2 linked regions of the Homo sapiens genome follow. The protein of the gene in region 1 purifies or fractionates together with the protein of each later gene. This does not show direct contact. Each region holds a gene or a part of one and is shown in the gene's direction. Other genes may lie near its edges.

Region 1 (6,892 bases):
GCAGCTCTCTGTCAATACCACTATTACATCAGAAACTCCATGTTGCAACCACTGAGAAACTAACGTCACTGCTAGTGCTGCCAACTAAGGCAGCCGCCTGGCTATTAGGGCAATTCATACCAGCAAGGCAAGGAGCTCCATAATGAGCCACTTTCCTCTGGTTGCTTATACCTGAATTTAAGTTTGATATGGATGAGCCTGACTGGCAAAGCCTAGGTTATATTCTTGAACCCAGTTGTAATGGAGGCTGGGAAACTGAGTTCTAAATAAAAGAAAGTAGGCTGGGTGCGGTCGCTCACACCTGTAATCCCAACACTTTGAAAGGCCAAGGCAGGTGGATCACTTTACTTCAGGAGTTCAAAAACAGCCTGGCCAACATGGGAAACCCCATCTCTACTAAAAATACAAAAGTTAGCAAGGCATGGTGGCACATGCCTGTAGTCCCAGCTACTCAGGAGGCTGAGGCACGAGAATCGCGTGAACTTGGGAGGCGGAGGTTGCAGTGAGGTGACATTGTGCCCCTGCACTCCATCCCGGGCGACAGAGCAAGACTCTGTCTCAAAAAAAAAAAAAAAAAGGAAGTGATTCGTATGACATGAATCCAGTAGCAATATGCGATAGGCACTTGGCCAAAATATGCATTCACTTTTTTATTCTCATGGAACTTGTATTTTTGTAGGACAGACAAAAAATAAACACATAAATGAACATAATGATGGATAGCACTGGATGCCACAAAAAGAAACAGAGCTGTAAACTAGGGTATTCAAGAAGGGCTTTTCTCAGATGAGCAGTGTTGAAGGATGTGAGGAAGCAGCAAGTACAGAGGCTCCGGGATGGAAACTGACTTGACATTTCTAAAGTGCTGCAAGGAGGCTGGAGCTGAGAAGTGAAGGAGAGGGTAGAAAATGAGGTGGTAAGGGCAGCCATGGACCATGTCACGTAGGCCTTGCAGGCCATGGTTTCAGACTTTGTTAAGTGGCAAGGGAATGGCATAATCTGACATGTTTTAAAAGAATCACACTGGCTGCTATGTGGAGAATATTTTATAGAGAACAAGGTTAGAGACCCAGTTGATCAATGTATGAGCAGAGGGATCCAAGCACTAAAATCTGCCCAGATGGGTGGGGAGATGGGATATGAAGGGAATCTTGAGAGAGGAGTAGAAACTGCCTAAGAGAAAAGGTTAGAGGGCATCTTGGGCAAAGGGAAGAACAGGAGCAAGAACACAGGGGCGTGGAAGGCCCCAGCATATTTGGAAAACTTTGAGTGCTCTAGTGAGGTTACAGAGAGGGATCCAGACATGAGGCTGGAAAGGAGGAGAGACCTAAATGGCCAAGGGCTGTTCTTTTAACTTTTCACATCACCAAAGTAAAATGTTGGTACAGTGATGGGGGCTGAACCTGAGGCATAACTGGGGCTACAACTTCTCTGGGAGGCTAGTCCTCCCAATAGAGTTTCCAAGAGAGCAGGAAGGCCACACAGTTCCTTGCTCTTTCCCCTCTCCTCAGACTAGAAAAAACATGGGCAATCCACAGTACTGAGCTGTTAGTATCAAAGATGGGCACACCCACTCACTGTGGTGTGGCAATCAGATAGCAGAGATCTGAAGGTGTCTCCAACAGGTCAGTACCCGGGAAAAACTGTCCAAGTAAATAAATATCTTGTTCTCCACACTGTCTTAGTCCGTTTCTGCTGCTATAACACAAATACCTTAAATGGGATACTTTATCAACAAATTTATAAACAATAGAAATCTATTTGTCCCAGTTCTGGAGGCTGGGAAGTTGACAGAGCAAGGCCTCAACAGATTTGGTGTCTGGTGAGGGCCCTCTGCCTCACAGATGGCGTCTTCCTGCTGTGCCCTCACAGTACAGAAGGGTGAAACAAGTTCCCTCAGGCCTCCTTTACAAGGGCACTAATCCCATTCATTAGCAACCAAATCACCTCCGGAAAGCCTCACATCTTTTTTTTTTTCTCTTGAGACAAGTCTCACTCTGTCTCCCAGGCTGGAGTGCAGTGGCGTGATCTCGGCTCACTGTAACCTCCACCTCCCAGGTTCAAGCGATTCCTGTGCCTCAGCCTCCCAGCTACTCGGGAGCCTCCCGAGTAGCTGGGATTATAGGCACGTCCCACCACGCCCAGATAATTGTATTTTTAGTAGAGGCGGGGTTTCACCATGTTGGTCAGGCTGGTCTTCAACTCCTGACCTCAAACGATCTACCCTTCTCAGCCTCCCAAAGTGCTGGGATTACAGGCATGAGCCACTATGCCCACCCAAGTCCCACATCTTATTATCATCACCTTGAGGATTAGGTTTCAACACATGAATGTGGTGGGGATATAAACATCCAGACCTCTTATTCCACCCCAGATTCCCAGGCTATAAGTACACTGAGCCTTAAAGGAAGTATTAGCTGTGGGTTGGTGAAGAGAATTCCAGAAGGAAAGAACAACGTATGCAAATGCCAGGAACCAGAAAGCACCCTTCTCCATGGGCAACAGAACCAAGGCTGGAAAGACAGGTTGGGCCTAGATTGGGAAATGCTTGGATAATGGGGTAGTCACCAGAACGGTTTATTCCTAAACCAGATTCCCCAGTTAAATAGAATAACCAAAATCGAAATGTGCAATGCTTGCTTTTTGTCCATGATAAGCTGCAGGGGAAACATTTGCAGGTTGGCTGACTGAATCCACAGATGGAAGTCTCTGTAAATTTAGGACAGATTGTCTCAGTTAATCTCTAGGACCAGTCAGACCTCTGTAATGATGGATTTGCCTGACATGAGAAAGTTCTACCTCTCATAACACAGTTTTCAAAAGTTAACTGCAATGTGGCCTTTATGTGATGAAATCTGGCTCAGGTGCCAAAGATCTGCAACATTAAGACCTTTGCAGGTGGGGATTCACTGTGATTTTAGGTTCCTTGGATCCTTCAGTCTTCTACTTCAGCTGAGGGTTCCCACCCAAGCCAGGACTCAGCCTTTGTTATTCTCATGCATTAGCCACAGGTAGCTATGTCACTTCAGAGTTCTGAGCACGATGAAAATGCAGACTTTACAAGCACTTCAAGTCAAGACAAGTGATTAGCATTGGCTCCAAGGGTTTAAAAGGAACTCAGCCAAAAACTGTTCAAAACTGGCCATTTCATCTGAACTGGGACAGCAGGGCACAAGGAGAGAAAAGGCTGGTTGGATTAATGCAGCCCCCGCTTTCCATGGCTCTACTGTATTTCACTGAGAGTTGCTACCAACTCCTGCGCGCGCCCCCACCCGCCCACTCCACTAATCTCGTGTCTTAATCAGAGATACAGGGAACCCGTGGAGAAGATGAAGTACAACTGGGATAAGAAGATCGTAGGTGTTTTACGTTTGAATTTAAGCAACAAATCTGTCGAGCTGTTTTTCTCCACTTCCCCCTTAGGCTGGGTCACGCGAGGGGAAAGCTCCGACCGCCCAGGACTCCTTAGAGTGAATCCCATCCCCTCAAGTTCCTCTCCAGAATCTCCCCCTCCTCCCGCCTTTGCCCTGCAACTCCTCCCTCTCACTCTGAGTCGCACGCACCCCTGTCCCCTCCCTGCCCGCAAAACTACTCTTCAAAGGCTTCCTTCCGGGCACCGCGAAGCCAGCGTGCTCAGCATTCAGGGAGGCAGCGGCGCTCGCCTTCATCCAGGACAACAAAACTGCCATTTCCGAAGAGAAAGGAAACGGCTCGCGGTTTCTGGGGTTCCCAAGCGCGCGCCTGCGAGGGAGGCCGCGAGCCGAGTCGCCACGCCCAGAACCCCGAGCCCGCCCCCGCGCCACCCAGCCCGGCCCCGCCGCCCCGGCTGCGCACGCGACGCCCCCTCCAGGCCCCGCTCCTGCGCCCTATTTGGTCATTCGGGGGGCAAGCGGCGGGAGGGGAAACGTGCGCGGCCGAAGGGGAAGCGGAGCCGGCGCCGGCTGCGCAGAGGAGCCGCTCTCGCCGCCGCCACCTCGGCTGGGAGCCCACGAGGCTGCCGCATCCTGCCCTCGGAACAATGGGACTCGGCGCGCGAGGTGCTTGGGCCGCGCTGCTCCTGGGGACGCTGCAGGTGCTAGCGCTGCTGGGGGCCGCCCATGAAAGCGCAGCCATGGCGGGTAAGTGGCTGCGGGGGTCGTCAGCCCCGTTCGTGGGAGGCAGCGCGCTGCCGAGGCTTGGGTTCCCAAGTTGGGCTCTGGTACAGAAAGTTCCGCGTGTGTCTGGCCGAACGCTCGGGGCGGACCCAGAGGTGACCGGGCGGGGTGGGGGAAACTGAGGTTTGGACCAGTCACCCGCTGGCCCCGGGGCCGCCTGCTGAGGAAATTGCCTGGTGCTTCCCCTCTCGCTTTTTGGATGCGGCGGTCGCAGGCCGGGACGGGTGCGCATAACCTGTTGAGTTACCGCAAGTTGGTTTTTACAGCCTTTCCCTGAAGTTAATGTTTGCCGAGGTTAGAGTTTCTAAGGCTTCCGTTTGTAAACAAGATTAGCTGAGTTGAAAAATATGTCTACCTAGGCCCGCGGAAACGTCTCCCAGTTAGTCGGGGAGCTTTTCAAGCGTCCCCCAGGCATTTCAGCGTCTAATATTATGCAGTATTATCCAGATGAATTACAATCTTTAGGTCCCCCTGACGCTCGAAGTTAGACTTCGGGGCTCTTGGAGCTAGTTGGGAGCTTTTGGGGAGCGCGCCCCGCCCTCGCGGTAGTTGAGGCGGCCGCCCCCATGGCGGGGCGCTCTCCACCCCTCGTGTGCCATAAACACCCGGCCGAGGCGCGCGGCAGCTGCGCAGCGTTAAGGGCACAGCTGCACGGTCGCCGGTGGCCCTTGTCGTCGCTAGTAAGGTCGTAACAGGATGATGTTGACTTTGCTTTTCTGTGTAGGGCGGAATTTGTTTCGTTTTAGGCCCTTGGCCCTTTGGAGACTTCAAACAGCCCTTTTTGGATGAAACCAGGAAGTTGGGATTTGTTGTGTAAATACTGTTTTCCTTTGTCAACTGTTAGAGAAGTCAGGTCCCTAGGTAATGGTCAGTAAACTAGGATAAGTTAAGTAACCCAAGGTTTTCATGGTTTTAAGTTCTATCCATCCACTGTATATGTTAGCCTTAGGTTCGTTTTATCCAGCAAAAGAAAAAGGCAGTTTGTAAATCTGGAAGGTTCAGGCACAACACTTGCTTTTTCTGGAATAACCTGGGTGAATTAACAATTTTTCTTTGTTTTGCTGAAGTTTTTTTGTTTGCTTAATTGTGCGTGTGACAAACTGGCTTCGCAGACCTAATTTTGAGATCATTTAAGAAAAAAAGTGGTAAAATCATGTCCATCGTGTATCTTGGTCCTAATTTTATACCAATTATCTCATGAGGTGAGGTCTCCATTTTTAAAAATTTGTTGCTGTGTTTGTGAAGATAAGCCTTACTGTTTCAATGAATTACCGATTAGAGAAACTGTGAGTGACCATGCTTTTCTTTCTTTTGCCCTGATAACACAGATTTTTTTTGCCCTATTTTAGCACTGTTTGTTCTGTTTATTACTTAATGTCTTACTAGAGGTTAGTCCCATTTGCAAAACTTGAAATGCTCTACAGTAGGCGAGCCCTGAATTCATAAACTAGTATAACCAACCAGAGGTGGAATCTGTTTCTACAGACTATATAATGTCACCTTGCAACTAGACTAAAAGGTATACAATAGAAGATTTCTCAAAAAAGCTAGTAACTGTTAATCGTAGTCTTCATGTATAGTGTAATCTGTATACAATGTCATTACGAAGTATAGTGATTTTTAGCCATCATACTAAAACTCTTAATGGCTGATTTTTACTGGGTACATATTCTGTGCATCCCACGCTATGCTAATTTAGGTCCATAAATCATCCCATTGAATCCTCACAGTATCGTCCCCATTTTATAGATAAGTAAGCTAATTTATGGCAAGTAAAACAATTAATACATGTTTGGTTTCAGATCAAAATCCAAATTTTCAATTAACCATTTCACCACTAAGCCGCGTTAGATGATGATGGCTCTTGAAGTAGATAATACTTTTATTCCACAGTATTACCATTGCCTAGAATATTGTGGGAGAAGATAAAAACATTATTGAAATTCTGCTTTTAAAATATTCTTCACAGTCAGCTGCATAGCTTTATAAATATCAGTTGAAGGAGGAGGGAGACTATGAGCAAGTTTGCAAATCAGCAAACAGGATTTATTGTAGTATTCCAATGAATGACATTAACATTAACAGGATGGGAGGGGCGGCTGTTAGTCATTACTCTTAGTGGCAAGTGACAGAAACCCACCTTGAACAACTGTGGAAAGAAGGGACTTTTTTGACTTGTAACTGAAAAGTGCAAGGATTGAGGTGGCTTGAAAATGGCTGTATTCAAGTGTTCAAATAAGTCGCCAAGAAATTAAGAAATCATCGCGTTAAGAGCGACAATAGCAGGGAAACAAAAACAGGCTGTTGTGTTAGCCCAGCCAAAAGATGATGGTGAGTGGCAATGGAGATAAAAGGGTGGATTCTAGATCTATGGGGGGTTGGGACTAATCACTTGCTGATGGATTGGAGGGTGGGATGAGGAAGAGAGAAGAATCAAAGGATGACCTCTTGGTTTTGGGGTTGAGCAGCTGGTAATGCAACAATTGGGAAGGTTGGGGGAGGAGCAGGTTTATAGTAGAAAATCAGTAGTTCCATTTTGGCACTCATATCTGCAGGCTTAGGAATCAAACTATCTGGTCCAATTCCAGTCTCTGCCACTTTGTATCTGGGCGGCCTTCTCTGGGCCTCAGTTCTTGTCTGCAAAACAATACTCCTAAGAATTGTTGAGAGGGTTAGATGAGCTAATGCACATAACCCTGGCTTGTGGTAAGCACCTAATAATGTTGGCAATTGTTTGC
Region 2 (7,026 bases), on another chromosome or scaffold:
TCCCAGCTACTCGGGAAGCTGAGGCAGGAGAATGGCGTGAACCTGGGAGGCAGAGCTTGCAGTGAGCCAAGATTGTGCCACTGCACTCCAGCCTGGGCGATAGAGCCAGACTCCGTATCAAAAAAAAAAAAAAGTTAGCAGCCTTTATTCGGTCAAATATTTTATTCATGAATCATGCGTTTTGGGTAAGTTGCTAAATATTTGAGATTGCTGGTCAGGAGCAGTGCTGATAAATGTTTTTGGAAAGTGATTACTAAGCTGCTCTGGGACTGAAACGTTCTGGGGGAGCTTGCATCTGCTCACTTTTTCACTCGTGCACCACTGTTATTGCAGAGCCCAGGTAGATGACTGGACCAGGATGGGGTTGGCGTTTGAGGTTTCTGTTGTGTTCAGGCTCTTGCAACTTCCTTGAAGGGAGAACAACCTTTTTAGTAGGTGCTACACTTCATGAGATGTAATGAAAGCACATGGGCGTGGGTTTTTTCTTGGTGTTAGCCATGGTGGTTTGTTTTCACATTGTCATAAATACGTGTCACGTTCTTCACTCATTTACTCATTCATTTAGAAAAAGCTTTTTTATTGAGTGTCAGGCCCTGAGGACACAACAGGGGTCAAAAGCCACACTACCTTGGCCAGGCAAGGTGGCTCACGCCTGTAATCCCAGCACGTGTGTGGGGCCCATGCTAGACCTGTGGGGGAGAGACAGCTGACAGCTAAGTTGCTCTTTCCCAAGGGCTGAACAGTCTAGTGAAGAGATGGCCCCTATGTATTCAGCATCCAGTGCTGGGAAGACACAGGAAGAGGAGGCTCTTTGGGCTGGGGCCGGGGTTTGGGGACAGCCTCCTAGAGAAGGTCGTTGAGCTGGTCTTCATGGATAGAGGAGTGGCATCTAGAAAGGAAGGAGGGATGCACCCTCATCCCAGGCAGAGGAAGGAGGAAAGGACAGGAGGGAATTGTAAGAGGGAAAGAACCATAGCTATTTCTAAGTGACCAGAGCAAAAGGTGGGCAGTGACAATAGCAACAGAGAAGACTGAGAGCTAGAAGGACCCAGTGTCCGGTTTTGTTTTGTTTTTTAAATTAAAAAAAAAAAGTTTTTGGGGGCCAAGTGCGGTGGCTCACGACTGTAATCCCAGCACTTTGGGAGGCCAAGGCAGGCAGATCACCTGAGGTTAGGAGTTCAAGAACAGCCTGGCCAACATGGTGAAACCCCATCTCTACTATAAATACAAAAATTGGCTGGGTGCAGTGGCTCACACTTGTAATTCCAGCACTTTGGGAGGCCGAGGCGGGTGGATCACCTGAGGTCAGGAGTTTGAGACCAGCCTGACCAACATGGAGAAACCCCATCTCTACTAAAAATACAAAATTAGCTGGGCGTGGTGGCACATGCCTGTAATCCCAGCTACTTGGGAGGCTGAGGCAGGAGAATCACTTGAACCCAGGAAGCAGAGGTTGAAGTGAGCCGAGATCATGCCATTGCCCTCCAGCCTGTGCAACAAGAGTGAAACTCTGTCTCAAAAAACAAAAACAAAAAAACCCACAAAAATTAGCTGGGCATGGTGGCACACACCTGTGGTCCCAGCTACTTGGGAGGCTGAGACAGGAGAATCACTTGAACCTGGGAGGCGGAGGTTGCAGTGAGCTGAGATCACGCCACTGCACTCCAGCCTGGGCAACAAGAACAAAACTTTGTCTCAAAAAAAAAAAAAAGAAAGAAATAAGGAATTTGGACCTTATTTTGCAGGCAGTGTAGAACCATCAAAGAGTTCAAAACAAGCAAATGATATGATCGGAATTTGTAATTTAGAAATAACAATAGCTAACCTGTTGAAAGTCCCTTTTCTCTACGAGTACAGAATTGGACCTTATGTGTTATTGGATCCAATCCTCACACTTCCTCCCTATAAGGTAGGTACAGTCACCTTCTCTTATCAGCAGTTCCAAAATTTAGTGCATTCTAAACGTCAGAAGTGTGTATGTGTGTGTGTAAATTGGACCTGAAAACTCGTTTGGTGCTAAAATTTGGCCTGAACAAATGAGACTGTTTGTAATCTTTATTTACTGCATGCATCACAGTGGCATGATCTTGGCTCACTGCAACCTCTGCCTCCCAGGTTCAAGCGATTCTCCTGCTTCAGCCTCCCGAGTAGCTGGGATTACAGGCACCCGCCACCACACCCAGCTAACTTTTGTATTTTTAGTAGAGACAGGGTTTCACCGTCTTGGCCAGGCTGGTCTTGAACTCCAAACCTCGTGATCCACCCGCCTCGGCCTCCCAAAGTACTGGGATTACAGGCATGAGCCAGTAGCTTTTTACATTTAAAGTAGGGTCCAGCTGAAGTGAATTCATTTTACAAACGCTAAAAGCAGTGAGAACTAGCTGAGAGCATTTTGAGAAGAAAAGTGAAAGGTATGAAGGTTTTCCTGAAGTTAGTATCCACTTTTGTAAAATCTAGGCCAGTGGTTCTGGGCCAGGGGTGGTTTTCCCACCCAGGGAACATTTGGTAATATCTGGAGACATTTTTGGTTGTCATGATGTGGGGGAGGTGATATGGTTTGGCTGTGTCCCCACCCAAATCTTATCTTGAATTGTAGCTCCCATAATTCCCATGTGTTGTGGGAGGGACCCAGTGGGAAATAATTGAATCATGAGGGCAGTTTCCCCCATACTGTTCTCGTGGCAGTGAGTAAGTCTCAGGAGATCTGATGGTTTTACAAGGGAAAACCCCTTTGGCTTGGTTCCTATTTCTCTCTTGTCTGCTACCATGTAAGACATGTCTTCTGCCTTCCACCATGATTGTGAGGCTTCCCTAGCCACATGGAACTGTGAGTCCATTGAATCTCATTTTGTTTATAATTACCTAGTTTCTGGCATGTGTTTATCAGCAGTGTGAAAACGGACTAATACTGTATGTAACTAATACTGGCATCTAGGTAGAGGGTAGGGATGCATCTCAGTATCCTGTTATGCCCCACACCAAAGGATTATTGAGCCCCAAATGTCAATAGTGCTGATATTGAGAAACCCCAGTCCGGGCTTCATGTACTTATCTGGCCTCTCTAGAACACTGGTTCCTTAACTTGAATGTGCATCAGAATCACCTGGGGGTCTTGTTGAAATTCGGGTTGCTGGACCCCACCCCCAGAGTTTCTGATTTGGAAAGTCAGGTGGGGCCTGAGAGTTGGCATTTCTGCCAAGTTTCCAGGTGACGTTGATGCTGATGCTGCTAGTCCAGGGACCACACTTAGAACCACGGCTCTACAAGAAAGGAGGGTTATTTGTCACTGTGCTTGCCTATGTACAACCACCAAGAAAGAATACTGAATACAGAAATTAGCCAGGCATGGTAGTGTGCACCTGTAATCCTAGCTACTTGGGAGACTGAGACGGGAGGATCACTTGAGCCCGGTAGGCGGAGGTTGAGGTGAGCTGAGATCGTGCCACTGCACTCCAGCCTGGGTGACAGACCAAAACCCTGTCTCAAAAAAAAAAAAAAAATACTGCTTACATTTTATCCTCTTTTTTTTTGTCACCTTCTGGGATATATTTACCTGGGGTCATTCACAGATAGCCACCTAGTTCACTGTAATCAAACTGCATATGACAAAGCTAGATACGGTCAGCACTCCAAAGAGTATTAAGCCAATGTGGAATATCAAAGCTTAATGCCATTACACCTGGGAGTCACAGGTCATTAGTGGTTTGGGTGGTCAGCTTAGGGTTCTGCTTAGAAACCTTTATGGATTAATGTCTCGTGAATGGTTAATAGAAAATGGTACTACTTCTTGTATGAAGTCATTAGTATTTTGCTGAAGTAATAATTACCTTAAGCTCTTTAATTTAAATTTAAGTTTAAGAATTTGAACTACAGTGGTGACTTTCCTGGTAGGGGAAACAGAAAATAAGACTCTGCTTTCAGAGCGGAACTAAAATGGTGAGACAGTAGGAACCAGTATGTTTGCTTTTTGGACTTTTTTGCTGTGGACTGCACCAAAAATGTAGACAGTCAGTTGATTGAATGATACAATTTTTAAAAGGTAAAAGCTTTATAAAGCCTTATAAATAAGTTAAGGCTATAGGCCTACTGTCTTCACTTTTGAGAAATAGAGTTTGTGGATGGACGTACTTATACTGTTGCATTAGGGGCTCGTAGGCCAAGATTGGTTTCTGCAGGAAACTCAATTTTGTTTGTCCCAAGTTAAAGATAAATCTCATGTGATTTAAAATGTTTTGAGATGTTGCACTTAGGCTGGGAAAGAGTAAAGATTACAGAAAACCAACTTTTAGATGTTTTTTAGCATTTTCCTTTTTTAAAAATTATACCAAATATGTAATATATTTGCTTCCACTTAGATATATCTAAGTTTATTAAGATGGTTTGGGGAAAAATTTGTGTATTTACCAATTGTTCACATAGAAACAATCTTAAATAAATAACTTGATTTTTAAGTGTTATGCCTGGGAGGAAGGCTGGCATAGCTGGAATTCATTAGTTAATACAGAAAACCAGGATGTTAACTGCTGTATTTTCATTGTCATGCAGAGCCTAAAAGTAGACTTTAATTTGTGTTATAAAATAAACTGAAGACTTGAGAAGGCAGGAAGCCTGGGTGGCCACCCCACACATTTACTCCTGTATTGTTAGGGTGATCCTTCATTGTTACAATCATTTTCTTTTTATAGCATAGTTAAGAACAAAGGCTTGGGAGCCAGAATGCCTCAGTTTGAATCCCAGCCCTGTGATCTTAGACAAGTTATTTAACCTCACTGTATCACAGTTTTCTCATGTGCAAAATGGACATGAGTCCGTTTTGTACCTGCTTTACAGAGTTTTGTGAGGATTAGGTGAATTAAACCACGTGGAACAGTGCCTAGCACAGAGAAAACATTATGCAAGTGTTAGTTGTTATTGTTTTCATTCCCATTTATTTTCCATTTAATTGCTTTAATCTTAAAGACTGGGACAGAGAAAGCACTATACAAGTGTTAGCTATTATTATTTTCATTTCCACTTATTTTGCATTTTGTTACTTTAATCTTACGAAAGAGTAATATGTTTCTACTTTGTATGCATGTTTGTGTGTGCACGTGAATAAGTGAAAATAAAAAAATTTTTCCTGTTTGAATAGGACAATACCATTTGAGGGGTTATTTACAATCCTAAATTCTTAGAACTGCCTTTGAGTCATGCCTTTTCTTTATTTCCATATTTGGTTACTTGCAGGTCATGTCAGTGATTAGTTTCACTTAGACATCTTTCCCCTGCTATATTTGAGATCCTCAAGATCGGGTTCATTGATTCACTAGAAAGATTGACACATTATAGTCATACGCATGGCTGTGATTTATCATAGCCAAAAGACGCAAAACAAAATCAGCACATGGGGTGAAATCCAGAGGAAACCAGACACAAGGCTTCCAAGAGTCCTCTTCCTGTGGAGTCACAGGACAGGCTAATTCAGATTGAATTAAGACAACATGTGTGAAATATTGTTTATCAGGGAAGCTCCTTAGAGACTTTATTCAGTGTTAGAGGCTGGTCATGTAGGTGCCCTTGGCTAATGTTCCAAAATTCCAAACTCTCAGAAGGAAGGTAGGTGGTCAACATAAACCACATATTTTATACAGGCATGAAGCACAGTGAGCCATTCTTAGGAGTTAGGGAATGGTGAGGTCCCCTCTGGATAAACAAGGTCCCAGACACCTGCCAAGGGCCAACCTTGCAAGCAAGACTTTCTAAGGACAGCAGCAGCAGGCCTGCTGTGGGAACTCTTTTCTGCCCACCTGCCCATAATTACCCTAGTGTTTGTCCTCATCATCTTTTAAACCTCATTTTTCAAAGCCTATTAACTGGCTTCCCTGAGTTCCAGCATACTGTACTTGGATCTGTCCCACTAATCTCCTATCTTTAACTAGGCTTTTATTGTGTCTTTTTCCTGCTCATGACCTTTCATTAGCTCCTTATTTAATCATGTCTGTAAAAGGACTTTGGGGGCCGGGCGCAGTGGCTCATGCCTGTAATCACAGAACATGGGGAAGCTGAGGCAGGCAGATTGCTTGAGGCCAGGAGTTAGAGACCAGCCTGGCCAACATAGTCAAACTCTGTCTCTACTAAAAATACAAAAATTAGCCAGGTGTAGGGGCTCATGCCTGTAATCCTCCCAAGAAGCTGGGCTGAGGCACGAGAATTGCTTGAACCCAAGGGGCATAGGTTGCAGTGAGCCAAGATCATGCTGCTGCCCTCCAGCTTGGGCAATAAAGCAAGACTCTGTCCCCAAAAAAAAAAAAAAAAAAAAGGACTTTGGGAACCCCATAACTGCTCCCTGCTAAGCTTTATTTCCACCTTCTATCTCTCATTTATTATGGTTCTTTTGTGTCCAGTGAAGTCAGTGTGTGTTCTGTCCCACTCACACCTGGTACATTTCCCACCTGGGTGCCTTTGCCTCCCTCACCAGGAACCTCACTTGCCCTCTCTCCTGTATTCAGACCCTCCTTCATCTCCTAGATCCACTTCAAGTTCCACCTCCTCCATTGAATAATTCTTCCCAGCCCATCATTCTCTGTCCTTTCTGAGCTTCCTTCAACACTCCTAGTATATTACTGATGATGCCTAGTTAATTACAATCAGGTATTAGTTCCTGTTGCTTTGTGTTTATTCATCTTATCTTCCCACATAGTCTGTACTCCACCAGGTACTGCATAACTAGCTACTGGTTGAATGATACAGACTTAACCATTTCTGCACAGTAGACATTTCCTCTGCTGTGTTTAGCTTTAATAATCTGCTAGTTCTTTCCTAAGAAGCAGATGGTAATATAATGAATGATACTTGTTTCTAGAATTTAGGTATTCATCTTCCCTCTCTACAAAGTATGCTCAGCAAATCTTTCTGAGAGTTGTTAAGACATTATTAGCACATATATACTGATTTCATGATGTATTTTTGTCATACTTCATGGTGAAATAATCTCTTTATTCATTTTTCTTTGTCAACCACATACTACTTTGCTCAAAACACTTCCCT

The links. The genes of interacting proteins can lie anywhere in the genome.
Region 2: the proteins of TMEM123 (region 1) and WDFY1 purify together in Homo sapiens (affinity purification with mass spectrometry; 3 studies listed by BioGRID and IntAct, with this or other methods). This does not show direct contact.

Annotation. Positions count from the first base shown.
Region 1 is NC_000011.10:102,449,750-102,456,641, reverse strand, and holds the start of TMEM123 (porimin precursor), read left to right. Parts: upstream 1-3,876; 5' UTR 3,877-4,018; coding exon 4,019-4,118; intron 4,119-6,892. UniProt on the Homo sapiens protein: Implicated in oncotic cell death, characterized by cell swelling, organelle swelling, vacuolization and increased membrane permeability.
Region 2 is NC_000002.12:223,935,331-223,942,356, reverse strand, and holds part of WDFY1 (WD repeat and FYVE domain-containing protein 1), read left to right. Parts: intron 1-7,026. UniProt on the Homo sapiens protein: Positively regulates TLR3- and TLR4-mediated signaling pathways by bridging the interaction between TLR3 or TLR4 and TICAM1.